Linked DNA regions of Homo sapiens. The protein of the gene in region 2 interacts with the protein of the main gene of each other region in a pairwise test. Each region holds a gene or a part of one and is shown on either strand. Other genes may lie near its edges. The genes, in order: PIGG, GLP1R, ZNF99, SAA1, P4HTM, ARFRP1 and CAND2.

The links.
Region 1: the proteins of GLP1R (region 2) and PIGG interact in a protein complementation assay, tested with the Homo sapiens proteins (one study listed by BioGRID).
Region 3: the proteins of GLP1R (region 2) and ZNF99 interact in a protein complementation assay, tested with the Homo sapiens proteins (one large-scale study listed by BioGRID).
Region 4: the proteins of GLP1R (region 2) and SAA1 interact in a protein complementation assay, tested with the Homo sapiens proteins (one large-scale study listed by BioGRID).
Region 5: the proteins of GLP1R (region 2) and P4HTM interact in a protein complementation assay, tested with the Homo sapiens proteins (one study listed by BioGRID).
Region 6: the proteins of GLP1R (region 2) and ARFRP1 interact in a protein complementation assay, tested with the Homo sapiens proteins (one study listed by BioGRID).
Region 7: the proteins of GLP1R (region 2) and CAND2 interact in a protein complementation assay, tested with the Homo sapiens proteins (one study listed by BioGRID).

What each region holds. Positions count from the first base shown.
Region 1 is NC_000004.12:505,409-509,382, reverse strand, and holds part of PIGG (GPI ethanolamine phosphate transferase 2, catalytic subunit), read right to left. Parts: intron 3,666-3,974; coding exon 3,456-3,665; intron 1,979-3,455; coding exon 1,790-1,978; intron 555-1,789; coding exon 413-554; intron 1-412.
Region 2 is NC_000006.12:39,083,010-39,086,983, reverse strand, and holds part of GLP1R (glucagon-like peptide 1 receptor precursor), read right to left. Parts: intron 1,079-3,974; coding exon 911-1,078; 3' UTR 1-910.
Region 3 is NC_000019.10:22,780,998-22,785,714, reverse strand, and holds the start of ZNF99 (zinc finger protein 99), read left to right. Parts: upstream 1-1,563; 5' UTR 1,564-1,698; coding exon 1,699-1,701; intron 1,702-4,717. UniProt on the Homo sapiens protein: May be involved in transcriptional regulation.
Region 4 is NC_000011.10:18,264,514-18,269,203, reverse strand, and holds the start of SAA1 (serum amyloid A-1 protein preproprotein), read right to left. Parts: upstream 2,941-4,690; 5' UTR 2,908-2,940; exon of another isoform or gene 2,761-2,907; intron 2,321-2,760; 5' UTR 2,317-2,320; coding exon 2,226-2,316; intron 10-2,225; coding exon 1-9. UniProt on the Homo sapiens protein: Major acute phase protein.
Region 5 is NC_000003.12:48,992,847-48,996,820, reverse strand, and holds part of P4HTM (transmembrane prolyl 4-hydroxylase), read right to left. Parts: intron 237-3,974; exon of another isoform or gene 1-236. UniProt on the Homo sapiens protein: Catalyzes the post-translational formation of 4-hydroxyproline in hypoxia-inducible factor (HIF) alpha proteins. Hydroxylates HIF1A at 'Pro-402' and 'Pro-564'.
Region 6 is NC_000020.11:63,701,400-63,705,288, reverse strand, and holds part of ARFRP1 (ADP-ribosylation factor-related protein 1), read left to right. Parts: intron 1-3,071; coding exon 3,072-3,153; intron 3,154-3,388; coding exon 3,389-3,459; intron 3,460-3,889. UniProt on the Homo sapiens protein: Trans-Golgi-associated GTPase that regulates protein sorting. Controls the targeting of ARL1 and its effector to the trans-Golgi. Required for the lipidation of chylomicrons in the intestine and required for VLDL lipidation in the liver.
Region 7 is NC_000003.12:12,799,250-12,803,223, reverse strand, and holds part of CAND2 (cullin-associated NEDD8-dissociated protein 2), read right to left. Parts: intron 1-3,974.

The DNA.
Region 1 (3,974 bases), on a different chromosome or scaffold from region 2:
CTGTCTGTCCTGCTCTGGCCGGGTCCCATGACTCTTGTTGACACTGCTATTCAATAGATGGTTTACAATAATGCAAACTTTTAAAAAAGCCGAGGTATTCACGTTTCCTTCAGTTCACACATGCTGTCCAGATGTCTCTGAGCTACTGGCAATTTTTCTCAACAGTTCCAGATATCCAGGCAGCAACATTCATACAACAAAATTCTGACAAAGAATAACTGTATTTTAAGGATTCGGGAAGGAACGTAACTTCAGATCCCAAAAGCCTTTTGCCCAATTACTTTTCATGCTCACATTGCTTGGGGACTTCAACCTTATGGAGCTTCTAAAAAATAGGTTTTCAAAATTAAAACCAGACTATAGAAAACAAATGTAATACAATTTCCAACTGTTAACATTCCTAAATTCTCACCGGGTTTCCTTTCAAACGCAGAACTGATTAAAATCAGAGGTGTATTCACCTCCTCGGTGGAGGAGGCCCCGTGACTTCCTGTTTCAGACATGCCATGGTCACCACAAAGAACCAGCAAATTGGGTAAAGGCGTCTCTCTCTCCTTTAAGGCAAAGGAAAAACATTTCAACTGCGTTCAGACTGAAGAGAGCACATCATCTTAAGAAGACAATTTTCGGTTTTAGCTTTACTTTATAGAGTTGTAGCTCTTTCTCAATGAATTAGATTTTTTTTTCCTATGAGCTCATAGCCAGATCACAGGGTCACAGTCAAATAATGCCATAAATGAAGTTCACAGAATTGTACACAGCTCATGGAGCACAGCAGGCTGCATTTCTGCCCTCTGATGGCAGACGGTTTGTATCTGGTTTCTGTCTTTGCCACTGCCAAGCTGTGAGACTCTGGACGCATTCTACTCTGTGCCTTGGTCGCCTCATCTGTCAAATGGAATCTTTCACAGGACTCTGGTGAGAACACAACACACAGCAAAAGGCAAGAGCTCTGAGCCATGTGGGGGCACCCACCAGGCTTCTCTGCCCCTGGGGTTGCAGCCACACATCCTTTGCTGCTCCGGGACAAGCCAGGCAGGCTGTGCCTGACCCTCGCTGCTGGTCCTCCTGGAACACTCGTGCACAGACCACATGGTCTGCCCCTCCCTCCCTTCAAGTCTCTGCTCACCCTGCACACGTCTTCAGGGAAGGCTTCTCTCAACACGCTGTTGAAAGCCCCTCCTCCTGCCCTCTGAGTTTCTGCAGCACCCATCACCTCCTCACATACTTATTTACTCATCTTTCTCATCTCTCCTGGCTAGAGCGTGAGCTTCACGAGGGATTATCGACTGTTTCACTGATGCACCCAAATGCATGGACAAAAAGTGACATAGAACAGAAACAGAGACACAGAACAGACAGAGTGACACAGAACAGAGACAGTGGCACAGAGCAGAGAGAGTGACACAGAACAGAGAGTGACACAGAAGAGAGAGTGACACAGAACAGAGAGTGACACAGAACAGAAAGTGACACAGAACAGAGTGGCACAGAACAGAGAGAGTGATACAGAACAGAGAGAGTGGCACAAAAGGTCTTCAGGAGGTATTAGTTGAATGAATGCATACACGGGTAGGAGTGAGAGCTGCTGTTCTGCAGGGCTGCTGGAAGACGGAGTCAGTGCAGTGGACACTGAGACAGTGCTGCCCGTGTGGCATGCGGCCCCTGGCTAGCAGACTGATGGTGGACATTCACACAGGCACCCTGAATAACTCAGGCGGTTGCATTTATTCTAGGGAACATCCACGTGAAACCACATCAGCAGACAGTGAGCGACGGCGAGCCTCACCTTCGACTGCAGTGAGGTGTGGATCTTCATCAGCACGCTGTCCATCTCGCTCAGCTTCTGCCCAATCAGGGGGCTGTTGGGCCCTGAAATGTGGCCAATGTGGTCCAGCCCCAGGTAGTGGAGGATTAATATGTCCCAATCTCCTCTTTTTAATACTTTATCCAAATGCCTCGTGACATTATTATCCACCTTTGAAGGGGAAACACACGTATAAACAACTCACCTAATTTCCCTGGATCTTCACTCCCCGGGGAAAACGCAACAGTCATCTTAAAATCTAGGGGTTTATTCAGGTTACAGGATTTGGGGGAGTTGAAACACAACAAAATCTATGTCATTAAAAATAAATAAATAGGCTGGACACAGCAGCTCATGCCTTTCATCTCAACACTTGAGGAGGCTGAAGCGGGAAGACTGCTTGAGGCCAAGAGTTCAGGACCCACCTGGGCAACATAGCAAGACCCCACGTCTATAATAAATAAATGAACATTAGCATTGGATTAAACTTTTGCTAATATTGTTTTTATGTTTCTGGGCTATGGATCGAATATATTCTACAGATAATTTAAATGAGCAAGGGTTCTTCTGACAAAAATATTTTTCTGTGGGATCACTGCTGGGCTTAATGGGCATAACTGAAGGTGAGCAAATGGGCAAGTTAAATAGATCCCAAGTTGTCATGAGGTAACTAAGGGCAAAGGGCAGTTAATTAAAGACAGGACAGTACCCAGCGTTAAAGTAACCAGCAGGATGATGAAGCTGAGGGCATCTACATGTGTCCTACAAGAAGGCTGTTCTGAAAAAGACACAGCACTCAATGATCACATTGATTTCTGAAATAAACACATCACGGAGGAGAGATGAGCAGTTGATCAGCCCCCAATAGAGCTGTCAGCCTGGTGAGCCCTGACCCCTCAGCTAGCTCATCTCCCTCCCACTAAAAAAATCTCCTATGAAGAGAAGTGTTTCTCAGTGATGCCATATATAGTCAGGAAAACTCAGTCATTACTGAAAAGTAACTGTTGAAAAGCGCCCCACTTTGGAACAGGATAGGACTACAGATGCTCCATAAGGCCCAGCCATCTAGGAGGTGAAGCTGGCTAAACCCCAGGCCAGGCAGGTGTGCTGGTGTGCTCCTACCTCAGCCCCAGGTCTGCTTTCTAACATGCAGGTCTAATTTTTGTTGGAAAAGCTCCAGGAAAACCCCCTCAGGACCAGGCCCCACCCAGTCGGCCACCTGCCCTCAGGGCACGATGAGGCTCCGCTTGCAGCAGAACCAACAGGCTGTGGAGTCCTACAGCTCTGCCATGTGCAGAAGCTACCAGCCTGTTCTGCCCACCTGGGGAGTCCCCACTCACCCATCATATCTCGGCTCAGACAGTCCCTTGGCTGTGTCACCCTTCCTGATCCTCTCTGCCCCTCAATGGCACTCAGCTGTTCTAAGCTTTGGGTTCCATAAAACTCTGCTCACACCTGCTTCAGGTTTGTATTTCTGGGTTGTTAACTGATTATGTGAGTGAATAATTTTTACACCTGTCCATAGTACTCCCTATAAATTAATAAAACCAAATATAAAATGGTATCATCTCTCACTAAGTAATGGGATGCCAGGCTCTATCTAGTATGATATTCTAGTATGATATATTTTCTTATTTTAAAAACTGACCTCTGTGTAATCTGACACGAAAAATGAGGTTGTTCCATCATATTCCACAAAATGCTTTGGGAATAATTTAACCCAGGTTTCATCTCCATAAAAGACTATTCTTTTTCCAGCTGCTTTTGCTTGTCTTATCACACTGTCTTCCAGCAGTGCAGGAGAATTGAGGTTCCTGATGACGTCGACAAAGCCAGGAAGGCTCCCCGTCATCAATGCCTGCAGTCAGAAAATGCAAGAATTAGGCCACTGAATCCAAAACCGGAGCATGAAAAGGGCACTGAAGATTTTTTTTTTTTTTTTTGAGACAGGGTCCCTCTCTGTTGCTCAGGATGGAGTGCAGTCATGCAATCAGGGATCACTGCAGCTTTGAACTCCTGGGCCCAAGCGATCCTCCCACCTTGGCCTCCCAAGTAGCTGGAACTACAGGTGTGTGGCACCACACCCAGCTTTTTTTTTTTTTTTTTTTTTTTTTTTGGTAGATACAGGGTCCCGCTATGTTGCCCAGGCTGGTCTGAAGATTTTTTA
Region 2 (3,974 bases):
GAGGCAATGTCTCTCTTGGCCCTCTGGGCTCCTGGAAGTGGCAGGTAATCTACACCCACAGTCTGGACATTCCTAACGTGTCCCTAGATGAACCCCAGAGGATTCTTGAGCGTCTTTAAAATAGACTTGGCAGCTCATACCCCAGGGCTGGGTTCCCCGGTGGCAAGCCTGCCCTGATTCTCTGGGCATGGCAGAGGCAGGCACCAAAACAACTCAAATACCTGGAGGAGAAGCGAGCACCGTCTCAATGCTCATTCTTTCTCAACACCACCTACAGCCATTTCCAGAAACAGCTGCTGGCAGTGGCCCAAACAAAGCCCCTCAAAAAGAAACTGGGCAGTGAGATGAGGGGGCAAGATGAGGGAAATAAGCAACCCAGACACACAAACAGCTTCCCTTTGAGAGAAGACAGGGGAGGGTGGTGACCCCAAGTGATGCAAGCAGAGGAGGCTCCCGTCACTCCCGCTCTGTGTTTGGCTGAGGTTAGAAGAGCCACTTTCAGAACCACCTCCTCTTGCAAGCCCCAGTTTCACTAATAAGCCGTTGACCTTGAGTTTGAGTCTGGGGTTGATTTGCGGCTCTGTCTGGGGGAACCCCAAGGGCCTGTGGTTTCACAAGAAGCAATCCTCCTCATTTTCACAGCGATCGTTTTTCCTCTCCTCTCGCCACTGTGATCAAATTAGGAGGCTGCTTCTCCTAGGAGAAAATGTGTCCATGGTCCCAGGAGGCACTGCCCATTTACCTGTCTGATGGGTTTGGGGAGGGAAAGCAGGATGTATGTGTGTGTGTGTGTGTGTGTGTGTGTGTGTGTGTGTGTCCCTTCCTTCCCTTGTCCCTGGGAGTGTCTCTCCCACCTGGATTGGCCACCCGGCCTGCAGCAAGGACCCCAGGGAGGGCAGGCGCTGGAGTCTCAGCTGCAGGAGGCCTGGCAAGTGGCTGTGTACATGCTGCTGCCCGCCGTGGCTCCACTGCTCAGGCTGCTGGTGGGACACTTGAGGGGCTTCATGCTGCTGTCCCTCTGGATGTGCAAGTGCTCAAGCCGCCAGCGCTCCCAGCTCTTCCGAAATTCCAGCTGGACCTTCCATGGGAAAAGGAGGGAAACGAAAGCCATCATGCAAACCAATGGCTAACAAAATGGCCCCACTATTACATTAGTGGGGAAGGGAAGAAATCCACTGCATTATATTAAGAGACACAAGTCAAGGCCTTCGGGCTCCTAAATTAATATCCCAATAAAATTGTTTATTGTTGTCTCCTATTTTCTGCAGCTCCTCAGGAGAGAGATCAGCTTGATGACCTAATTGGTCTTTTCCATCTCTAAACTCTGTGATTCAGCTAAGTACCTTTTACAATCCATCACAGTATTATTTAACGGAAGAGAATGAGAGGGAGGGTGAAACACAGGGAGACAGGAGATGGGAGAGAGAAGAGAGACTCTGTCTTTACAGCGCACAGTCCAGTTTCAGCTTGGATGCTTGAGAAGGGGGACGGCAACCCCCAGCCTTCCTGGTGTCTACAGCAGACCCTTCTAAACTCCCTGAGGGCTTCTCTCCAGGCCCCAGCACCTCACAGGGGAGGAGGGAGGGAAGGAAGGAATGTGGCTGAGACGGGAAACAGCAGGGAGGAAGGGGCAGCCAGTGAGGGCTTCTCAACTGATGCCATCTAGAGAGACACTGCAGTGACCATGGGGGTGCAGCCCAGGGGAGCTCAGTCAGCCAGGATCCCTGTTGTGCTGGGCTCTGGCCTCCCCATCAGGAAAAGCCTCTCAGGAGGGCTGATGCTTGGGGGCCAGATTGTTGGGGCAGAAAGAGACAAATCCAAGTAACACTGTGGAGCCCCCATCCCTTGAGGGTTTGTGGCAATGCTGTGGCTCCCGGTGGTGGCCAGTGATTCTGGTCCCTGGAGAGGCCTAGCTGGAACCTGCCAAGCTAGTCCTGGGGGGTCTGGACTGCTCTTCTGGGTGATGTTCCCATACATTTGCTTTCCAGAGCTTCTTTGAAGTCCCCACCCTTCCCACACCAGAGTGTCTGGGGTCTGGGCCCTTCCCTTTAGGCCAAGTCACCAAGACAGCCAGATGCCAGCGGCTGTGGATAAGGGGCCAATCTCCCCACCAGCCCCTGTGCAAACAACCCTCCTCTCCTCCTTTGTCGTCCATCCAGCTATGCCCAGCAAGACGCCTGGTATGGCTGCATGCCATCCCTTAAAAGAACATTTTCTGCACTGAGTAGAGTTGAGATGGCCCAGAGGCTGCCTGCCAGGATGACGCCAGTGTCCCATGCAGCGTCATGAACCCAAGCTTGAGTGGGGGAGGGAAGGAGGCTGAGCAGACACCACCTACAGCCACCCTGTTGTATGCCAGCTCCCTGCCCGGCTGAGTCTTTGTGAAGGGAGCGCATGCTGACAGCTGGGATGGGGGCCCTGAGTCCAGTGGTGGCCCCCACTTGTGCAGCTGCCAGGAGGCCAGGCTTGTTTCATAGCCCTTCCGCTGGAGAGGGGGGGAAAGATGGTAAACTGAGGCACACCTCCGGGAAACCAGAGACCAAAGAGAGGTTTCAGGGACACCTATGGGACTTCTCAGGGTGCTGACACACAGTGTCTCCTTCTGCCCCCATCTCCTTCAGCACTTTTCCTGAACCTCTGCTGTGACCCCTGTAATCACGATTGTCCTTGAAAATCACCATATTTATTGGGCACTTACTGTATGCACAGAATTTTCCATTAATTATCTTAGCTGACTTTCACATCAACCCTGCAAAGTAGCTCCACATTTAAAGATGAGGAAACTGAGGTGCAGAGTGTTTATTTCCTCAGGTCGCTCAGCCAGGATTTGAACCTAGATCTGGCCTGATTCCAATGCCCGGCTCCTAACCCCTGGCCTCCTGCCTGCGTGGCTCTTGCAGTCCTGCTTGTCCCTGGTCCATCTCCTACCTCTCACCTGGGAGCACCTCGAGGGCTGGGACCACATCTTCTTCATCTCAGCATCCCTGAACCTAGCACAGTGCCCAGCATACAGCAGGTGCTCAGTACATGTGTTTTAAATGAACCAAATGAATGAACACATAAATGCATGAGCATCTCACATCAGGTTCCTTCTGTTCCTCAGCTATGAAAATGAACCCACAAAGACAACACCACAGATTCTGAGCACCTGGGCTGGGACTTAGGCCACCACACTTCCTCCTCCACCATCGGATTTTTATCCTCATCCCTGCCCTCGACCTCTGCAGTGCAGCACACCCCTCCTGACCTCCCTCTCCAGCAGGCACCATGCCAGCCTCAGGATTCGGGGTGAATTGGGAAGCTCATTCACCTTCATTTACGGCTGGGGAGACAGAGGCAAGGGAGGCAAAATGACTTGCCCCAGGTCACACAGCTCGGCAGTGGCAGGGCTGGGACAAGCACTCAGGGCTCTGAGTCACCTCACTGTGGCTCTCAGGCACAAGCTACAGCAAAACCACCTTCAGGCCTCCCCCTCCCTGTCCCCACTCACGCCCACCAGCAGCTGGTGCAGGCCTTGGCAGCCACACAGAACCAATATTCAAGCCATCTTTTCTCCTCAGGTCACAAGTACCTGGCATTGCCATGGCAACCCTGGGTCTGCAGAACAGCTCTTGTGGACAGAGGCCTTAGCCCCAGAGCCACATGTGTCTTTTGTGGCCCAGTGACAATGATGTATCTGTCCTTGTGCCTGGAGCAGCCAGGGCATGAGGAGTCTCAGGGTGGGTTTAAAGGAACTGGCTGGTGCTCTGAAGGGAGACAGGTTCTCCCGTTCTCTGAGCAGGGTCTCCTGGACCCCGTGGCACTAGCCTGGAAGATCCACGGGGAGATGCTAGCTGGGGTCTGTAGCCAGGCCTGGTCAGAGAGGTGCAACCCTGGTGATTCAGGATCAAGTTTTTTTCCAAGGGCAAAGAAGTACTATCCCCTTACAAAGGTGGGCCAGCCATAGGTGGTGCATGAGGAGGGAGGTGATGAGA
Region 3 (4,717 bases), on a different chromosome or scaffold from region 2:
GATGCCAGGATTCATTGACAAGTTGATTACTAGTTCTCTTCTAACAGTGGGTACCCTATAGGTACTGATTTTTCCCCTGATATAAAGTTGGAGGCCTCGTAAGAGAATGCTGAGTAATGCAGAAATATATGTGGACATGTATGCATGTAATTGGTGCCTATACTCACACAGTCCCCCATACCACAGGAGAAAACAGATAACCACAGCCTGACCATTAGGGCCAAGGACAAATAGAAAAGTAAGTTTTCCTTTAATCTATTTTCTTCATATCTAAACATTGGAGGTCAAGACTGTGCACAGATTTGAAGACACAGAGATTTCTTCTCCTGTGGCCTTACCATCCTTAGTTCACCTTCTGATCTCTGGAATAAAGGTAGGCAACAGGTGGCCAGCAGTGGTCTACCTGTGGTTGTTTTTTCCTGCTGTCCTGTGCTTTATTTATGGCTACTATCTGTTCCTCCCTCAGAGCTGAAGAGAGATGTTGGTAGGGAAAGGCTCTTTTTCCATCTTTGGCAGAAAAGGTTTGTTCAGGCCCTTCCCTCTCCTAAGGTCAGAGCTGCACTTCAATGTGGCAGCTACTGGCCATGTGTGGCGACTGAGTGCCTGGAATGTGGCTGGTCTGAACTGTGATGTGCTGGAAAGGTAAAATACAGAGTTAGTTTCAAAGATGAAGTTCCAAAAAATATCTACACTTCATTTATAATTTACATTTTGCTTACGTATTAAGATGATATTTTGGATATATTGGGTTAATTAAATTGCTACAATAAATTCCACCTGTTTTTTTTTTTTTTAATTTTTAAAGTTTGGCTACTAGAAAATTTAAAATACAATTTTATTTCAGAGGATTGCCTTCTTTTTAAAACCTCAGGCAATCTGATGAAAAAACCAGAAGCCAGGAAGGTCATAAACTCTGAAAATTTTAGATAATTGTTATATTCTTTTCATTTGTGAATAACCATATAATATATTATTTATAAAAGAATGTGACCTTATACAAAAGGTTAAATGCAAATACCCTCTGGGGTTGGCCTGGCTCAGTTCAGGAAGGAAGCCCTGCCTGAAAAGGCTGCAGCCTAGACTGTCATCCTTTCCTTTCTTTTTCTTTTCTTTTCTTTTTTTCGTGACAGAATCTCGCTCTGTCATCCAGGCTGGAGTGCACTGGCGCGATCTCGGCTCACTGCAACCTCCGCCTCCTGAGTTTAAGCAATTCTCGTGCCTCAGCCTCCGGAGTAGCTGGGATTACAGGCGCCCGCCACCACACCAGCCTAATTTTTATTTTTAGTAGAGACCGGGTTTTGCCATGTTGGCCAGGCTGGTCTCCAACTCCTGACCTCTGGTGATTCACCCGCCTCGGCCACCCAAAGTGCTGGGATTACACGCGTGAGCCACCGCGCCCGGCCCGTCACTCTTCATTCAGCTCAGCATCAGATCACATCTTCTGTCACTCAGGGCCTGAGGAGGCGGGGATTTAAACATTATCCAATCAGGGACTCTGGGCTGGGAACCGTCCAATCAGGCACTCAGCTGGAGCGGAAAGGGCGGCTTGTGGGATGTGGCGGGGCCGTTGTTTCTGGTTCCAGCTGGAGCTCCGGATCTCGTTTTTACTGCTCTGTGTCCTTAGCCTCTGTGGCCCTGTGACCTGTAGGTATTTGGAGATCCACAGCTAGGACGCCAGGACCCCCTGGAAGCTTAGAAATGGTGAGAGTGCCGGGTCCGATATCCTGAGAAGGGGAAGGGGCTGACTGGAACCGGTGGAAAGTGGCTGTGGCGGGACTCAGGCCTCCCCTCAGTGAGCTCCACAGTCTGCGCCCCGAGCTCTTGCCCAGCTCGGCCTCAGTCTCCTTCAGCCATAAGATGGCGGCTGCGCTGACTGCGGGACCCCGGGCGACCTGCCTCCTTCCTGCACTGTGACTATGCCCTGGCCTGGAGCCCTCTCTGGGCCGCTCTTCACCCGCAGCGCCTCCTCTCTCACAGATTGTGCAGGGACCACGGGAGGGGCGTCAGGGGAGAATCCTGACTCCGGGTGCGGGTTCATGAATGGGAAGAGCTTTGGTCCAGTGAGGTTTCCAGTCCCTCTTTTCTCCTATTAAAAATTGATGGCAGTCATCACTAAAGTAATAAAGGATTTAATCAAAGAGTGATTCAAAAATGGCAGAGCACCCAGCTGTGGTTTGTAGTTTATGGTCTATGGAAGGGATTTGACGGAAAGAGTTTTATAAGGTGCATAATGAAGAAAACCAAATTCAGTAATGGGTTATGTACAGTTACGTAGATTCTTAATTTGTACAATCAAGATGGAAATTTCCCGTTTATATAATCAGAGGTTAATTGTAGTTTATAGTTGGTTAAGCCTGAATTTTGTTTCCCCCAATGTAGTAATTTACAAAAAAAAAAGCACTTGAATTATTAATATTTTTTTCTTTCTTTTTTTGAAACGGAGTTTTGTTCTTGTTGCCCAGGCTGGAGTGCAGTGGCGCGATCTCGGCTCAACGCAACTTCCGCCTCCCAGGTTCAAGCGATTCTCCTGCCTCAGCCTCCCGAGTAGCTGGGATTACAGGCATCCGCCACCACACCCGGCTAATTTTTGTGTTTTTAGTAGAGACGAGGTTTCTCCGTTTTGGTCAGGCTGGTCTCGAACTCCCGACGTCAGGTGATCTGCCCTCCTCCGCCTCCCAGAGTGCTGGGATCACAGACATGAGCCACCGCGTCCGGCCGAATTAGATTTTTTAAAAAGTAGATTATCAGGCCTGGCTCGGTGGCTTACACCTGTAATCCCAGCACTTTGGGAGGCCGAGGCGGGTGAATCACGAAGTCAGGAGTTCTAGACCAGCCTGGCTAACATGGTAAAACTCCGTCTCTAATAAAAATACAAAAATTAGCCGGGAGTGTGGCAGATGCCTGTAATCCCAGTTTCTCGGGAGGCTGAGGCAGATAATCGCTTGAACCCGGGAGGCAGAGGTTGCTGTGAGCTGAGATTGCGCCACTGCACACCAGCCTGGGCAAGAGAGGGAGACTCCCTCTCATATTAAAAAAAAAAAAAAAAAAAAAAAGGCCAGGTGCGGTGGTTCATGCCTGTAATCCCAGCACTTTGGGAAGCCGAGGCAGGCGGATCACCTGAGGTCGGGAGTTCAAGACCAGCCTGACCAACATGGAGAAACCCCATCTCTACTAAAAATACAAAAATTAGCCAGGTGTGGTGGCACATGCCTGTACCTGTAATCCTAGCTACTCGTGGGGCTGAGGCAGGAGAATTGCTTGAACCCGGGAGATAGAGGTTGCGGTGAGCCGAGATCGCGCCATTGCAGTCCATTCTGGGCAACAAGACCGAAACTGTCTTAAAAAAAAAGAAAAAAAAAAGTAGATATCAGGCACTAGAGCCACCTCAGTCTATTTGCCTGCCACTTAATTATTTTTAATTATTTTCACACTCCTCAGATGACTGATTTTCCCCTCCATTTTTTACAGGTATCTCAAGCAGAGTATTATGTCTACTCCCAAACCCCAATTCCTGCAGCCTAACTCTGGCTTGCAATAAAATACTAAACTTCCAGTTCATAATGTCAATTTTCCCTCTCTGATTCACATTACTATTTGTCCTTAGTGTACATTTTGATACTGTATTTTATTTTTTAACAAAGCATTGGATGGTACTTTTCATAATATTTGTTTTCTGTTTGTGAATATTTCCTAAGAGAAGAAAGCAAAAAATAATCCCCTGACACTGTGTTGTAAAAAATCTTTGTGCCGCTTTTTTTTTTTCCTCCTTGCTCCACAGATTTTAGCAGAATGTTTTGGGGTAAAGGTAAAGGTTTTCCTTTGGAAACTTTATGATGTGTTTTCAGCCATTCTTCAGTTTTTTCCCTGGTCCTGGGTTTCAGTACTGTCTGGGAATTAGCTAAAATATTCCCCATGGCTATGTCTGCTAGAGTGTCTAGTGAATATCAGCTCCTGGTCATTTTCTCCAGTAGGACAACCTGAGGTGTGGAGTGTAGCCTTTCAACGAAGAAGGCAGATGCCCTGGGGTTGAGAGGTCTCTCCTGGTATACTCTTCCTTTGAAAAGCTAACCCTTGAGACATTAAGATTGTCTTCACCCAACCCAGCTTCCATTTTTTGAAGACACATTGCTGGTCAGCCAATCAGATGCTGGTATTGCGGGGAAAACACAGAAATAATTTCTGCCCCCTGCATTCTTTAAGGGAGCAGAACAATAGTGAAATATAATGAAAAAATAGTGAAAGAAAAATAGTGAGAATCTGTGAAATCAAAAATAGTGTCCCAAACGACAAAAAAAAAAAAAAAAAAAAAAAGTGACCCCAATGAGATGGTGTAAGAACTTGAAAAGTTCTTACCTGGGGCACTCACTGGGGCATAGTTCAGAGTCTCCTGAGAAGGAGTTATTGGGCACTTAAGTGAGGAGAATGGGGTGGGAGAATCTCTTAAGTGATTGGATGGCCTGACTTGACACATGAATCAGACACATCTGTACCTTGAAAAGATTTGTTCACTTATTTTGACCTCAGTTTTTTAACTGTAAATTGCATTTTGTTAGTAGGGATTGAAAGGTAAGAAAATACTTAACCAAGGGCAAAAAAGAGATGGGTTTCAGAATAAAATTAATATTGAATTGTATATTCCATTTGTTAAAAATTTTCATTTACCTTTTTCCCAGAATGACTTTAGGAATTTTCTCTGGTGTGTTTTTTATGGTTGGGT
Region 4 (4,690 bases), on a different chromosome or scaffold from region 2:
CCCGAGCCCCTGGAAAGGAAAGGAAAGGCAGAAGGGACATCAGGAGAACATAAAGACTCCAACAACACCTTAGAGGGGAATGAGGAAGGACAAATCTTCCACTGACTTCAAGCTTTCAGCCTGTGATCATAGCAGCCTTGGATACCATGGGTTGAGAAGCACATTCCTTTATCCTAGTTGGCTTCTTCAAGTGCCCTGGTGAAGAGCCACTGCTATAGAATGAAGCTGCCTATGATAAGATCCAGGAGTGTGTATGAATGAGGTAGTGACATGGAATACTGATGCTGAGAAAGGTGGCAGACACAGAGTACTTCTGCCCTGACTACTAAAGTTTATATTCTTTTTTTTTTTTTTTTTTTTTTTTTTTTTTTTAGACAGAGTCTTGCTCTGTCGCCCAGGCTGGAGTGCAGTGGTGCTATCTCAGCTCATCGCAACCTCCACCTCCCAGGTTCAAGAGATTCTTCTGCCTCAGCCTCCTGAGTAGCTGAGATTACAGGCATGCGCCATCACGCCTGGCTAATTTTTGTATTTTTAGTAGAGACGGGGATTTCACCATGTTGGTCAGGCTGGTCTCGAACTCCTGACCTCGTGATCCCCCTGCCTTGGCCTCCCAAAGTGCTGGGATTACAGGCGTGAGCCACCGCACCCCGACCTAAAGTATATATTCTTGCAAATGGAATACACGTCATTGTGACGTGAGTTCCAGTGACTGTTAGGAGCATAAAAGTCCCTAAATACTTTCTTAGTAGGCTGTACTGATGCTGTGGGTTGCTTGAGGAAGCAATAGGGCAGTGGTGCTCTGCCTTGGCTGCACTTTCTTTTTCATTTTTTTTAGATGGAGTCTCGCTCTGTCACCCAGGTTGGAGGACACTGGTGCGATCTCTAGTCACTGCAACCTCTGCTTCTCGGGTTCAAGTGATTCTCGTGCTTCAGCCTCCTGAGTAGCTGGGATTACAGGTGCCTGCCACCACGCCTGGCTACATTTTAGTATTTTTAGTAGAGACGGGGTTTCACCATGTTGGCCAGGCTGCTCCGGAACTCATGACCTCAAGTGATTCATCCACCTTGGCCTCCCAAAGTGCTGGAATTACAGGCGTGAGCCTTGGCTGCACTTTCTAATCACCCAGAGAGAAACTGAAAGTCCCAGTGCCCAGGCCACACCCCAGGCCAGTTTCTGCAGACTCTGCTGGGGAGTTGAAGGCATGGGTATTTCAGGTGATGCCAAGGTGTGCCTGAGATTCATAACCATCAACCTCTAGGAGGTGGTCAGTGATGCGTCTACCTGGCAAGAGCCCTGACCTCAAGCACAGCCGGGCTCAAACCTCTGCCCTGCCACCTGCTGACTGGCAGTAAGTCCCTGGGCATTGGCTTCAGCTGCTCTAAGTCTCAGCTTTCTCACCTTCCAAGATCAGCTTTCTCACCTTCCAAGAGAGGAAGATTGCGTCACAGAGTCATTCTGAAACTAAATGAGAAAATGCTGTGGTCCTTGTGGGGGCTTGAGGCACGTTAGTTCCCAGCTCTTGTCAAGAAGGCTGGAGAAGGAAGAATGGAAACAGAACAAACCAGGAAGGGAGCCCCTGACAGAGCGAGGCTAAAGAGCCCTGTACATTATCCAACTAGGAAATCGAAGGAGGAAGGAGAAAGAAGACAGAAGAGTCAACAGCCTTAGTCATACTCCTATGCGATTTATGCTGAGGGACATTTTATACCCATTGCAGGCCTTATTTTGCATCTTCTACGCAAAACAAACAGCTCAGGTGCTCCTGGAAAGGATGATTGTTCTTTCTCTGAGTAACTGACAACAATCCTCGACTCTCTAATCTGTTTAGCAGCTCCCCAGGCACATTGGGCAGCACAACCTAAGGCAGCGGCTCAAATCTTAAGGAAGCCCAAAAATACCCCGTGTGCGTTGTTACTGGATGCCCCGTCCCTTACGGCTCAGGAGATGTGTTTTTGATACACCTTGCAGCGGCTTCTGAAATGTGATCCATCCACTTAACACATCCTGAGAAGCTGCACTACGGGGAAAGGGGATATTCCCAGCAGCTCTGAAAGACTCGAGACAGGCAACCCAGCAAACCCTAGTTCCTGGCAGGCCTCAGCAACGCAGACACTAGCAACTCTGTGGTTCAAAAGCAGCCTTCCGAAAGCATCATTTTCCCCAGTTTATCAGGTCCAGGGTGATGTTTCTCTTCAGAAATCCTGCAAACCTTCTGAAGCCTTACCATCAAAAGCCTCGCCAAGGAACGAAAAGAAGCTTCGGCTGCTGACACCCAGGACCAAGGAGCAGAAAACCAGGCCCGTGAGAAGCTTCATGGTGCTGAAATGAAAGGAGAAGTCAGGCAGTCGCCCACAAGACTGGCACAGCTTCCCTTGGGACTTATATTCCGACGAGAGCCTGGTTATTTCCACTGGATCTTATTAGAGTCTCAGTGGCTCATCTAGGAAACCTTGCAGCAGGACCTCACTCAGAGCCAGAAGCCCTCGGTTCTGAACCCATCAGCCCTGAAGCCTGACTGCATAAGAGGATGCCAACGTGGCACTGATGGAGGAAGGCAGGAGTTACCACCAGACTGTCACTCCCTCAAGTAGCCTATAATTCCCCATAACGCATTTACCGTGTGTTCCCTCTGCCCCGCACAGAACTCAACATGGGATAAACACAAAGCAGGATCATTATTTTTTATTCTTAAAGCCTTTAGCACCTGGTATTCCCAGGTGTTCTCCCATCCAAGTACTACCAGGCCCGACCCTGCTTACCTCTCTAGATCAGAGGAGATAAGACACCTTCAGAATGGTATGGCTGTATGCCCCAGGATAACTATTTTTTTTAAAGGAAATGATAATCTTGTTGGGAAAGAGAAAACAGAGTAAGTTTTAAAAATCACTCCTTGGTGTGCTCCTCACCTGATCTGTGCTGTAGCTGAGCTGCGGGTCCCTGCCTGCCAGGGAGCGGTGGCTGCTATTTATACTGAGCCTTCCCTGCTGGTTTCTTGGGAGCGAAGAAAAGCTGGATGTGGTCCCTGGGGAAAGTCCCTGCAGGTCATTTCCCCTACAAAACGGTCTAAGACAAGTTCCTGGATGCCAGTGGTTTCTTCATCCCGGGTCATTTATCCCAGTTGTGCAACCTGAGGGAACAAGATGTGCCTGGCAGCTGTCAGGGCAGGAGACCAGCTCTGCTCCTCAGCATTGAGGGGGCTGAGGCTGCGGAGTTGAGAGTGGGAGCCCCGTGATGGCGGCACCTGGGCTGCTGGAAGGTGTGAAGTGAGGGCAGCTTTGAAGCCAGCTCCTGACTCTACCAGTCATTTCCTCAGGATGGGCTCTGCTGGGCCACATGGCAGATGCCTCTGAAATGAAGTCCCTCTGAGTTCATATCTAAAGCTTCAAAGCTGACAGACTAGGTCCAGCACAGTGGCTCACTCCTATAATCCCAATGCTTTTGGAGGCCAAGGCAGGAGGATCACTTGGGGTCAAGAGTTTAAGATCACTCTGTGCAAAACTGTAAGATCTTGTCTCTACGAAATATAAAAATAAATGGACCGGGTGTGGTAGTGTGCACCTGCAGTCCCAGCTACTCAAGAGGCTGAAGCGGAAGGATTGTGGGAGACCCAGGAGGTCAAGGCTGCAGTGAGCTATAATCACGCCACTGCACTCCAGCCTGGTTAACAGAGCAAGACCCTGTGTCTAAAAGAAAACAAAATAAAACTAGCAGCCTACCCCTGCCATGTCTCATGTGTGCCCTGGAAGGCTCCTTCCACCCCTCAGTCTAGATATCCAGAGATTTACCTCCTCAGCACAGAAAAGCCCTGCTCAGCTGGCCTAGTCAATTAGGAAATTAGGAAGGAAGGAAGTGGTCAGTACCAGAGCCCAGCAGGGCTGAGGCCAGGACATGCAGAGAGGCTGGTGGATATAGCAGCAACTGTGGTTTCTTCTTCTCCAGTCCGTTTTCACTCTTTTATTTTTTCTTTCTTTCCTTCCTTCCTTCATTTCTTCCTTCCTCTCTCTTTCTCCTTCCTTCCTTCCTTACTCCCTCTCTGTCTTCCTCCTTCCTTCTTCTCTCTTCCTCCTTCCTTCCTCTCTCTCTTCCTTCCTTCTTTCCCTCCTTTCTTCCTCTTTCCCTCCCTCCCTTCCCTCCCTCCCTCCTTCCTTCCTTCTTTTCTTCCTCCCTTCTTCTCTTCCTCCCTTCCTTCCTCTCTCTTTCTCCTTCCTTCCTCTCTCTTTCTCCTTCCTTCCTTCCTCTCTCTTTCTTTCCTCTTTTCTTTTCTTTCTTTCAGAATGCTATGAATATAGGCCTCAGGATAACTACTTTTTAAAGGAAATGACAATCTTGTTGGGAAAGAGAAAACAGTAAGTCTTAAAAACACTCCTTGGCATACTCCTCACCTGATCCTCCTCTCCTCCCCTCCCCTCCCCTCCCCTCCCCTCCCCTCTCTCCTCCCCTCTCCCCTCCCCTCTCCCTTCCCCTCCCCTCCCCTCCCCTGCCCTCCCCTCCCCTCCTCTCTTCTCCTCTCCTCTCAAGACAGGGTCTTGCTCTGTTGCCTGAGCTGGAGTGCAGTGGTGCAATCATGGCTCACTGCAGCCTCAGCCTCCCAGGTTTAAGTGATCCTTGCATCTCAACCTCCCAAGTAGCTGGGACTGCAGTTGTTTGCCAATATGTTTGAGTAATTTTTAAAATTTTTAGTACAGTGGG
Region 5 (3,974 bases), on a different chromosome or scaffold from region 2:
TCACCTTGGACAAGATGCTGTTTGTCGAACCCCGGACAGACTTAATTATACCTGATTAACCTTTACCGGTCCGTAGCTTTGCCAAGCAGCAGGCCTATGAAAGAGCAGGGGTGTGTGTGGCAATGCAGCAGCCTGAGCTAAATTCCTTAAAAACTCGAACTAGCCAGGCGCAGTGGCTCACACCTGTAATCCCAGCACTTCGGGAGGCTGAGGCAGGCGGATCACGAGGTCAAGAGATTGAGACCATCCTAGCCAACATGGTGAAACCCCATCTCTACTAAAAATACAAAAATTAGCTGGGCGTGGTGGCGGGTGCCTGTATTTCCAGCTATTCGGAACGCTAAGGCAGGAGAATCACTTGAACCCAGGAAGCGGAGGTTGCAGTGAGTCGAGATGGTACGCACCTGTAGTCCCAGCTACATGGGAGGCTGAGGCAGGAGAATTGCTTGAACCCGGGAGGCGGAGGTTGCAGTGGGCCAAGATCGCACCACACTGCACTCCAGCCTGGCCATAGAGCGAGATTCCGTCTCAAAAAACAAAACAAAACAAAACAACAACCTTGAACTGATACGCACACTAAAATTGTTTCTCTACTTTTGGGCCTCCAGTGTTTGTCATGAGGAGGACTATGGTCTGATGTAGCTGCCTAATTGTTTTCTTAAGCTGAAAAAGAATACATTTAGAAATCCTAAGATAAAGCAGTCATGATTTTAAAATAAATTGTTTTGTATACTGGTGGCAATTACTCATTTACCTCAAATTGTTAAGAAAAATGGATTAAAACTCTTGCTGGCCACTGGTAGTACCCCCTGCTGCCTTTGAAGAGGGTGCCAAGTCAGAAGGATACGTGGAGGATGCTCTAAGCCAGCAGGCAGATGCTGGACTGGGCTGAGAGCACCCAGTGAACTCCTCCAGCCAGCCAAGAATTAGCGGGAGGCTGGGCACGGAGGCTTATGCCTGTAATCCCAGCACTTTGGGAGGCTGAGGCAGGCGGATTACTTGAGGTCAGGAGTTCGAGACCAGCCTGGCCAACATGGTGAAACGCTGCCTCTGGTAAAAATACAAAAATTAGCTGGGCATGGTGGCAGGCGCCTGTAATTTCAGCTACTCAGGAGGCTCAGGCAGGAGGAGAATGGCTTGAGCCCAGGAGGCGGAGGTTGCAGTGAGCCGAGATCACACCACTGCACTCCAGCCTGGGCAACAGAGCGAGACTCCATCTCAAAAGAAAAAAAAAAATCAGCAGGAGATACAACTCTGGCCATTGGACACACAGCTGAGACAAATCAGTCCTCTTACATATGCAGCTCACCTTTGTGGGCAGAGGTACAAATGACACAAATAAATACGGAAAATAGTTTCCAGCAGTCCTAAGCATTTGAGAACAAAACCCAGCAGGCTGATGCAACAGGGTGCCTGGGAACCTTTTAAGATGGGTTTGAGGACAAGAGGTCTCTGAGGATGGGATGTGTGAGCAGAGGCCTGCTGGAGCTGAAGGCACGCTCTGTGGGAAGAGCCAGGTCTAAGCCTTTTAGTGAGGGAATAGTACATACAAAGGCCCTGAGGCAGTAGTGAGCTTGTGGTGTCTGAGGATCAGCAGGGAGTAAATGGAGTCGGGGGTGGGGGCAGGAGATGAGTCTAAGAGGCGAGAGGGCTTTTAGGCATCAAATGAGACTTAGAAGTGAAATGGAAAATGTTGGAGACATTTAAGAGAGTGATGAGCGGCTGGGCACGGTGGCTCATGTCTGTAATCCCAGCACTTTGGGAGGCCAAGGTGGGTGGGTCACCTGAGGTCAGGAGTTTGAGACCAGCCTGGCCAACATGGTGAAACCCCATCTCTACTAAAAATACAAAAAATTAGCCAGGTGTGGTGGCGGGTGCCTGTAGTTCCGGCTGTTTGGAAGGTTGAGGCAGGAGAATCACTTGAACCCGGGAGGCGGAGGTTGCAGTGAGCCGAGATGGTACCATTGCACTCCAGCCGGGGCAACAAAAGTGAAACTCCATCTCAAAACAAAAACAAAACAAAACAAAACAAAACAAAAAGAGAGAGCCATGAGATCTGATCTGCTATGACAGAATCAGTGTGGGGTGGGGTAGGACAGCGGGAGAAGTGGGCCACATGTAAGAAAGCAATGTCCCCAGAGAGGTGGCAATGGTTCAGAAATGGAGCACTTCTGTTCTGAACAGGATGGTGCCCTCAGCTGACACCCAATATTCCAAATCCTTTATTTCCCTACCAAGGGAAAATGACCTACCAGTCATGGAAGTATTTGCCAGGAGCTCAAGCGTGGGCCTTTTGTGGCCCAGGTCCCAGTTGCCAAGTGTCTTTAGAAACAAGGGTGGGAAACAGGAAATATTTCTCAAGGAGAGACTGGGGGCTGCACGGGGTCTTCCTTGAGAAGTGCTAGGGTTCCCTTCTACAGAGATGGAGGCACCTTGGGGTGGACCCCAGTTCCCTTGCCCCAGCTCACATCTTTAGCATCCACTCTTCGATCCCAGGTATCTTGGGTCCCTGAAGCTGGCAGGTCACAGGTTTAGATCCAAGAACAGCATGGCAGAGGGGGCAGAATCTATAGCAGGTCCACTCTTCTTGGGCCCTGCTTGCCCATTTAGAATAACTGGGTAGCAGACCAATGGACAGAGGGACAGGCAGGCCCAGAAGACAGACACTGCTCCTGCTGGGGATGAGGCATCCTTCTTTGTAGTCATCCAATACCACAGTATTCAGGAACTGCCCCACCATGACCACCCTCTTCCCTCTCACACATCTGGACTTCCTGTAATCATTGATTGCAATCTCTTGGTTATGCCTTTTGAAGTTCATCTGCAGAAACAGAGATCCATCTGATGGCTTAACCAGAACCAGTTTACCTTTTGTCAAATCTCTTCTGCTTTTCATAATTTGCCCTTGGTGACTTTAGATCTGGGTTTCTCATTCTATGCTTTTTTTTTTTTTTTTTTTTTGTGATGGAGTCTCACTGTCACCCAGGCTGGAGTACAGTGGCACGATCTTGGCTCACTGCAACCTCTGCCTCCCGGGTTCAAGCAATTCTCCTGCCTCAGCCTCCCGAATAGCTGGGATTACAGGCATCCACCACCATGCCCAGCTAATTTTTGTATTTTTAGTAGAGACGGGGTTTCACCATGTTGGTCAGGCTGGTTTCGAACTCCTGACCTCAAGTGATCCACCCGCCTCAGCCTCCCAAAGTGCTGGGATTAGAAGCATGAACCACCAAGCCCGGCTCATTCTCTGCTTTATAGGACAAGCTGTTTATTAGGGAGACTTTGGCTTCATGGCTTACTTAACCTAACATCAATATGAATTAGATATATACAGATCCCAGGAAGGCTGCTGAGAGAAAACAGTGCCTCCTCAGATGTGTCTGTTCATAGTAGTCGTTAGTAGTGTAGTAGTAATGGGGTGAGTATTAGTTCCTTCCTGGACCCCTCTTTCCTGACAGTCATCTGGCTTTATCCCATACTTCCCACAAGTCGTTGCTCAGATTTTTTTTTTTTTTTTTTGAGATGGAGTTTCATTCTTGTTACCCAGGCTGGATGCAATGGCACAATCTTGGCTCACCACAACCCCTGCCTCCTGGGTTCAAGCGATTCTCCTGCCTCAGCCTCCCAAGTAGCTGGGATTACAGGCATGTGCCACAACGCCCTGCTAATGTTGTATTTTTAGTAGACGGGGTTCCCCCATGTTGGTCAGGCTGGTCCCGAACAACCTGACCTCAGGTGATCCACCCGCCTCGACCTCCCAAAGTTCTGGGATTACAGGCGTGAGCCACCGCGCCCAGCCTTGCTCAAATATTTTTTTCAGGCAGGTCCACCTTGGCTACCTTATTAAGGGTTCCAGCCAGGCATGGTGGTTCACACCTGTAATCCCAGCACTTTGGGAGGCTGAGGAGGGCAGATCACCTGAGGTCATGAGATTGAGACCATCCTGGCTAACACGGTGAAAGCCCGTCTCTACT
Region 6 (3,889 bases), on a different chromosome or scaffold from region 2:
CTAGGCGCCCCCAAAGTGTCCCCTCCTGCTGTGACTTCTAGCCAAGAAGACATTTCTCCCATGGCCAAGTGATCTCTGATAGATCCTGTAGGACCACTGAAGTCAGACAGGACAAGTTGAGTCAGGGCCTGTGTGTCCAGTGCGCAGCATGCTTGGGGAGTGACACAGATGATGATGATCTTGTCACAGGCCGGTGTCTCAGGCACAGATGCTGAGACAGGTCGAGGTACAGGATGCACACTGGGGGTCGGCACCAGGAAGGCAGGGAGGACGGGAGAGGAGAGGTCGACTCAGGCAGCAGGATCCACAGAGCTGTGGTTGGCCCAGCAGGGAGCCCTGGAGGAGAACTGGCTATGCTGTGCCATGTGGGGCCAGGCTGGCCGGGACTTCACACCATGGCCTGGTGGGTCCCCAGTGTGGGCTGCCCTGGGCAGGTGTGACCTGGCAGTGTGGCTCTTTGCAGCCAAAGTGGGTCCCACAGAAACCAAAATGAGACCATCTGCTGGTGCAGTGTTCTCCAACATGAAGCAAGAATACAGTGGGGCCAGAGATGCCTGCACTGGCCACAGCTGCAGCCCTATGTGGACCCACACTTCCACGTTGGAGAGGGGTTCCTCCAAGGTCCTGAGGGCCTCTCTTAAGGCGAAACTGGAAGAGGGAGACTTAAGGGGGCCACTGTAGCCCATCCTTGCTGCTGGTCTTGGGGCTGCACAGCCCTTCCTTGAGTGCCCTCCCAATTCACTACCACTTCTGCTGGGGTGCGACTTCCTGGCAGTCTGAGCCCTTCTCCAGACACCACCGTGGTGGGGCCAGTGGCTCCCTGGGTCCCCAGCTGTGGGACAGCTGTGGGATGGCAGCCCCATCTCCTGCCCACCAGGGTCTCCTAGACATGAGGTGCAAGTCATGCCCATGAGGCAGCTGTGGCTCGTCATTCAGCGTGTCTGCTGAGTATGTGCTGCTCTAGTGGCCGGGACCCCTGACCCTGCTGAGCTCAGAGCTGGGAGGATCAGCTGCAGGGACCCCCCTAGGTCACTGGGAGGGACCGGAAGGGAGGCCCCTGCTCCCACCCTGGTTTCCTGTATCCTGCATCCTTGTGCAGAGCCAGCACCACAGAAAGGGGCGTCATTGCGAATTGGCCTCGTCCTGGGGCTGGACCCTGGGTTGGTGTCCACATGTGTGGCATGTGCCAGGACCTCAGCTCCTGGGTTCTTTGCTGTAACACTAGTCTCTCAGGCTGGCTGGCACTTTGCAGTTGGGGAGCTCCCATTGCTGCTGGGGAGAAAAACTCAGACCCACAGTCCCTCTGACTGCTCCACTGGGGTCAGCTGGCCAGCCAGGAGCCACGCTTGGACACCTCCCTCTTCCCCCTCCTTGTGGGGCACCCCACAATGACCACTGCTGTGACGCCTCCACTGGGGCGTGGGGCTCTGGGTCCTGCCCGCACTCAGCCCTGAGGTGTCGCTCCCGTCCACTGCGGCCCTGCTGGGCTGTGCACCTTGTGCCTGGTAGGTGTGATGGGTGGCTCTGGCCACGTGGTCCCATGGTCCAGGACCCGGTTGCACATGAACCTTCTGCCACCCTGCTCAGAAGCCCCAGGAGCCACGTGGAGATTCTCTCACTGGGCTTGCTGCAGCCTCCACAGAGCCGCCCCTCCTGCCACAGAGGTCTCCACCTTAGGGTCCGCCTGCTCCCTTGTGTCAGCAGCAGACAGCCGGCACACTGCAGGGTCCCTTGAGGGGTTGGCGGCCTCTGTGTGGGACCTGTCTGTAGGCCAGAGAAGTTCCTGGGGGTGGGGGGGCCTCGCTACCTGCAGAACCCTGGAGGGCGCCTGGCCTTGGGCCTCCTCTCCACTGTGGGAAGTTCCTGGGGGTGGGGGGGCCTGGCCTTGGGCCTCCTCCTTTCCACTGTGGGAAGTGCAGGTGCACAGGCTTCTCTCCTCTGTGGGAAGTGCAGGTGCACAAGCTTGTCTGGCACTGGGATGGGGTTGTCTGGTACTCCCTGCTCAGACACCCTAAGGATTTCGGAGAGTTGGGCTGTGCCTCCTGGCTTCTCATGCTCTCGGGTGTGTGTGTCTTAACACACTGACCACCAGCTTGTCCTACCTGGTCAGCATCCAGTTCTAGGTCTCTGGGCACTCATGCCTGGACAGGAGAGCTGGCACAGCCTGGAGGCAAAGTGGCAAATGTGAGCTGTTGTCTGCTCCACGTGGACGCGGAGTTTGCTGTGTTTTTTTCTGATTGAGATAGAGGTGCACTCATCTGGTCCAGGGCTCAGCACTTGTACCTGAGGCTGCAGGGGCTGTGCCCTGTCTTGCCCAGGAGTGTTGCCAGCGAGCCCAGGACTGACCAGCCCAGGCTGCAGAGGTCTGAGCTCAGTGACTCTGGCCCTGTCCTGGCAGGGAAGGCTCGCTTCGTAGATGGCGCTGGTCAGTCTTATCCGCATGGCCACACTCCCTCCCTGTGCGAGGTGCTGGCACAGAGCCCCACAGGTGCACTCCCTCAACGGGCCAGGCTGTGGTCTAGGTTCCTCCAGCCCCCAAACCCTATCTTTTTTTTGAGACAGGGTCTCTCATTCTCACCCAGGCTGGAGTGCAGTGGTGTGATCAGAGCTCACTACAGCCTCAACCTCCCAGGCTCAAGCCATCCTCCCACCTCAGCCTCCCGAGTAGCTAGGACTGCAGGCGCACATTACCATAAGCTTTTGTACAGACGGAGTCTCACTGTGTTGCCCAGGTTGGCCGTGAAGTGGGCTCAGGTGATCCTCCTGCTTCTGCCTCCCAAAGTGTTGGGATAATAAGTGTGAGCCACCACGCCTGGCCCAATCCCTGTCTTTCACCTTTGGCCACCATCAGGCCAAAGGTTGCCGGCAGGTTCTCAGGAGCAGCGTCTGGGGACACCTCCACCAGATCTCCCCGCAACCCCAGAATGCATCCCAGAAGGGTCTTGCAGTTGGGGGCTGCCCTCTTGCCCCTTCCTCATGTGAGCCCCTCACTGTGGCCATGACACAGGCCTGGCTCTGCTGGCCCTTGGCAGGGTGGGGACTGAGCCCCAACTCCTGGTGCTTCCTCCCAGTATTATGCGGAGTGTCACGGCGTCATCTACGTCATTGACTCCACCGACGAGGAGAGGCTGGCTGAGTCCAAGCAGGCGTTTGGTGAGTGCGGCCTGGCTGCTCTGGGAGGGATGGATGGTGAGTGGGGGCAGGTCCAGCTTGGGCAGCTCTGTGCCTGGGGCAGGCTCAGTGTCTGGTCAGAAGTGCTCCTGCCTAGTGGGTGACGGGGGGGGGGGGGGCAGAGGGAGTGGCTGTCACAGTGTCCACGCCTGTGGGCCCCTGGGCAGTCAGAGGCAGGATGCTGGGTGTGAGGCGCTGCCTCTCCTGCCCTCCCCAGAGAAGGTGGTGACCAGCGAGGCGCTGTGCGGTGTCCCCGTCTTGGTGCTGGCCAACAAGCAGGATGTGGAGGTGAGCCCCACCCCTGCCTCCCGCAGCAGCTTCCCGAGTCCCCAGCCTCCCCCACAGCAAGGGGAGCAGGTGTGCACCCAGACACCCCAGGCCCAGTGACTGCCCAGGGGGTACAGAGCCATTCTCAAGGCCTGCCCTGCCCCCAGCAGCTTCCCAAGCCTGGTTCCTCTCCAGACCTGCTGCTGCCAGCCCTGGAGGTTCTCCCACCTCAGGGCAGGCGCCCAGAGGCCTCTTCCTGCTATGCAGGGCACCTCTCCCCAGGAGGGCGGCCGTGTCTCAGGAGTGTGTGGCCAAGCTGTGGGGACACCCAGGTGAAACTCAGAGCTCAAAGAAGTGATGCTGGGGCCCTGGTGGGAGTCAGCTCTGACCCTTACCTGTTCCTGCTACCCTTGGAGGTGGCATCTGTGCCAGCCCCACCCCCAGGGCAGCC
Region 7 (3,974 bases), on a different chromosome or scaffold from region 2:
TCAGGAGATCAAGACCATCCTGGCTAACATGGTGAAACCCAGTCTCTACTAAACAAAATACAAAAAATTAGCCAGGTGTGGTGGCGGGCGCCTGTAGTCCCAGCTACTTGGGAGGCTGAAGCAGGAGAATGGCGTGAACCCGGGAGGCGGAGCTTGCAGTGAGCCAAGATCATGCCACTGTACTCCAGCCTGGGCGACAGAGAGAGACTCCGTCTCCAAAAAAAAAAAAAAAAAAGATTTTAATGGAGCTGCCCTATACAGGCATGCCATTTTAATCTTTTCTACCTTATTTTTACTGTACCTTTTCTATGTTTAGACACACAAATACCACTCTGTTACAACTGCCTACAGTACTCAATACAGGTTTGTAGCCTAGGAGCAACAGGCCACACCATATAGCCTGGGAGTGTAGTAGGCTCTACCATCTAGGTTGTGTAGGCACACTCTATGAGGTTCACACAAGGACAAAATCGCCTAAGGATGCACTTCTCAGAATGTTTCCCCGTCGTTAAGTGCCACATGATGGTGGATTATTTGGGCAGTGGGCATGGTTGGGCTACAAGGAGACCCACATATGTGTGACACCAACTGCCACATAGTGGCAGACTAGCAACGGCTCAGCATGCTGGCTAAATGCATAATGTTTCAGGATCGGTGGCCCCCGCCTCAGCCATTTATGAGTGTGAACTTGGGCAAGTCATTTCACCTCTCCAAGCCTTAGTTTACCTGTCTGAAAACAGGGATGAGACTAGTACCTGCCTCATGGTGTTTTAAGTGCACATGGTGTGTGCTCAGTAAATGGCACTGCCATTATTATAATGGCACAGGACATCATCCACATCTCACAACAGCTGAGAAAGTGATGCCAGAAGGTTGTTTTGTTTTGTTTTGTTTTTTGAGATGGAGTCTTGCTCTGTTGCCCAGGCTGGAGTGCAGTGGCACGATCTCAGCTCACTGCAAGCTCCATCTCCTGGGTTCACACCATTCTCCTGCCTCAGCCTCCCGAGTAGCTGGGACTACAGGTGCCGGCCACCACGCCCGGCTAATTTTTTGTATTTTTAGTAGAGGTGGGGTTTCACTGTGTTAGCCAGGATGGTCTTGATCTCCTGACCTCGTGATCCGCCCACCTCGGCCTCCCAAAATGCTAGGATTACAGGCGTGAGCCACCGCGCCCAGCCAAGGGATACCAGAAGGTTGAACAGACACCTTGTGTCCAAGTCAGAGCTAGAGGCCTGTCTGCCAAACAGATGGAGGAGGGCGAGCCCTGTCCACTCCCATCTCAGAGAACCGGCTCAGTCCCTGCCCTTAGAGCAGTGGATCTCCAGCTATAGCCAGCATCAGAATCACCAGCAGCGCTTGTTAAATAATACTAGTCCCCATTCCCAGAGTTTCTGAATCAGCAGGTCTGAGTTGGGGCCCAGGAATCCACATTTCTAACAAATTCCTGGAGGACACTGAGGGTCAGGGACCACACTTTGAAAACCACTGCCCCACGCCATGCTGATGGGCATGGGCATATTTTGGAGACCAGCGCCAATAGCTGACTGGCTCACTGACCTAGGGTGGGCACCAGAGGCAAGGGCTACCCACCCGGAGGTGAGGGATTCATGGGGCCTGACACCAAAAGCCTGATGCTGTCCCAGGCATTTGAAACTGCAGTGGGAGTCTAAGCTGGAAGCCACGGAAAGTTGAGGCTGGGGCCAACTTTCCAAGTCGAGGAATGGTGCGGGAATTGGGCACCATTCCCGCCAAAATTAAGAGGGTAGGAGCAGAGGTCTGAAACTAGTAGCCCTCAGCTGTGTCCAGCTTGCAAACATGTTTTCAAAAATTTAAATTACTTGTCAACATTTGAACATTGGGAAAGTTGACACAAAAATACTGACTTTGGCCTGGCATGGCGGCTCACGCCTGTAATCCCAGCACTTTAGGAGGCTGAGGCGGGTGGATCACCTGAGGTCAAAAGTTCTAGATCAGCCTGGCCAATATGGTGAAACCCTGTCTCTATTAAAAATACAAAAATTAGCCGAGCGCGGTGGCAGACACCTGTAATCCTAGCTACTGGGAAGGCTGAGGCAGGTGAATCACTTGAACCCGGGAGGCAAAGGTTGCAGTGAGCTGAGATCGTGCCACTGCACTCCAGCCTGGGTAACAGTGCGAGTATCCATCTCAAAAAAAAAAAAAAAAAAAAATACTGATTTCCAGGCTGGGCGCAGCAGCTCACGCCTGCAATCCCAGCACTTTGGGAGGCCAAGGTCGCCAGATCACTTAAGGTCAGAAATTAGAGACCAGCCTGGCCAACAGGGGGAAACCCCATCTCTACTAAAAATACGAAAATTAGCCAGGTATGGTGGTGCACACCTGTAGTCCCAGCTACTTGGGAGGCTGAGGCAGGAGAATCACTTGAACCCAGGAGGCAGAGGTTGCAGTGAGCCAAGATCGTGCCACAGCACTCCAGCCTGGGTGACAGAGTGAGACTCAAAAAAAAACAAAAACAAAAACAAAAACAAAACACTGACTTCCAGATTATCTTGAAAACAGAATATTTGAGTACAACGGGGCCTACAATCCCTGGTGACAATACCTGATTAGAATCAGGTTGTGGCTGCCCTCTCCCCAGTTCACCTGGTCCCCACTAGGCCCACTTCACCCACTGACTGGCTCCTGCAGGCATGTGAGAGCGGAGTCTCAGGAGAAAACAGGACAGAGCAGCGAGGAGATACTGTAAGGCTGCCTCGGAGAAAGCCTCCAGCTTTTACTGACCCTGCTGGGCCACTCTACCACCCCACGCTGGCCCTGCTTTCCAGCATGGTTGAGCAAATCAACCAAGAGCCCTGACCCCCGCCTCCTGTGGCAAAATCTATCACAGTTGGGATTCTGGCTCTCATCTGTGCAGACTCAGACCTGCTCCTAGATGTCACTGCAGCCCACAGTGCCCTGTTACCAGGGGTGGACTGGTCGATGACCTATTTATTTTTAACAGGTAGATTAGCCACAAGTTGCTAGGAGAGAGAAGGAGGCTGGGCTGGCAGCATGGGCAGGATGGCAGGACTGACTGTGCCCACCTCTGGGCAAAGGTAAAGTGAAGGAGGAGGTTTGGATTTGAGCCAGGCCAAGGCCTGAGGTGAGCACATGCACCCCTACGTCTGCTCAGCTGAGGGGACATTCTGAGATGGCACCCAGGGTCTCCAAGTTGTGTTTCTGCTGCAGTCCATGGGGGCCCAGCTCAGCCTGGCAACCCAGGCGATGTGCCTCTTTGCCCAAGATAGGCCTTCTATCCCCGCTCTTCTTCTTCATCTGTTGAGCTCCTCCTATTCACCCATCAAGAGCCCAGCTCAAATGTCCCAGCTCAAGGATGACTGACCTCCCTGCCCTACCCCTGCATCCACAGCCCCTAAGCACAATGGTTCCCTGGACAAGATCCTTTCAGAGCACTCTGCACCCCTCCTTTATAGCACTTCTCACACTGCAATACAAGTCTGGCCACCAGAGCATCTTCTCCATTGGACTGTACACTCACTGAGGGCAGAGGCTCATCAGGTTTATCTCTGGGACTCCAGGCTCAACAAAGAACAGGTCTGCAGAGGGCTTTGTCAGGGAGGGTGAGAGCAGGAGGAGAGGTAGTGAGAGAGCTAGCCCTTAACAGAACTTACAGCCAAATAGTCCGAATTCAGAAACCAACTCTTCTGAAGTATGCCTCAGCATTTCAGACACCCCTGGTTCCTGCAGACACTAGCTCTCGGAGAAAGCAAGCCATGTTTTATACGTGTATGTGTGTAGGGATGGGAGAGAGAAGGAAAAGTATATAATTTGGTGGATAAGAGCTTGAGCACCAAAGTTTGGCTTTAAGTGAGTATACTTACTAGTCTTGCCATTTATCAACTAGGTGACATTGGGCAACTACCTCCTTTTCTCTGGGCCTCAGATTTTCTATATATAAAATGGGAACTTTTCTTTGCCCTACCTCATAGTATCCT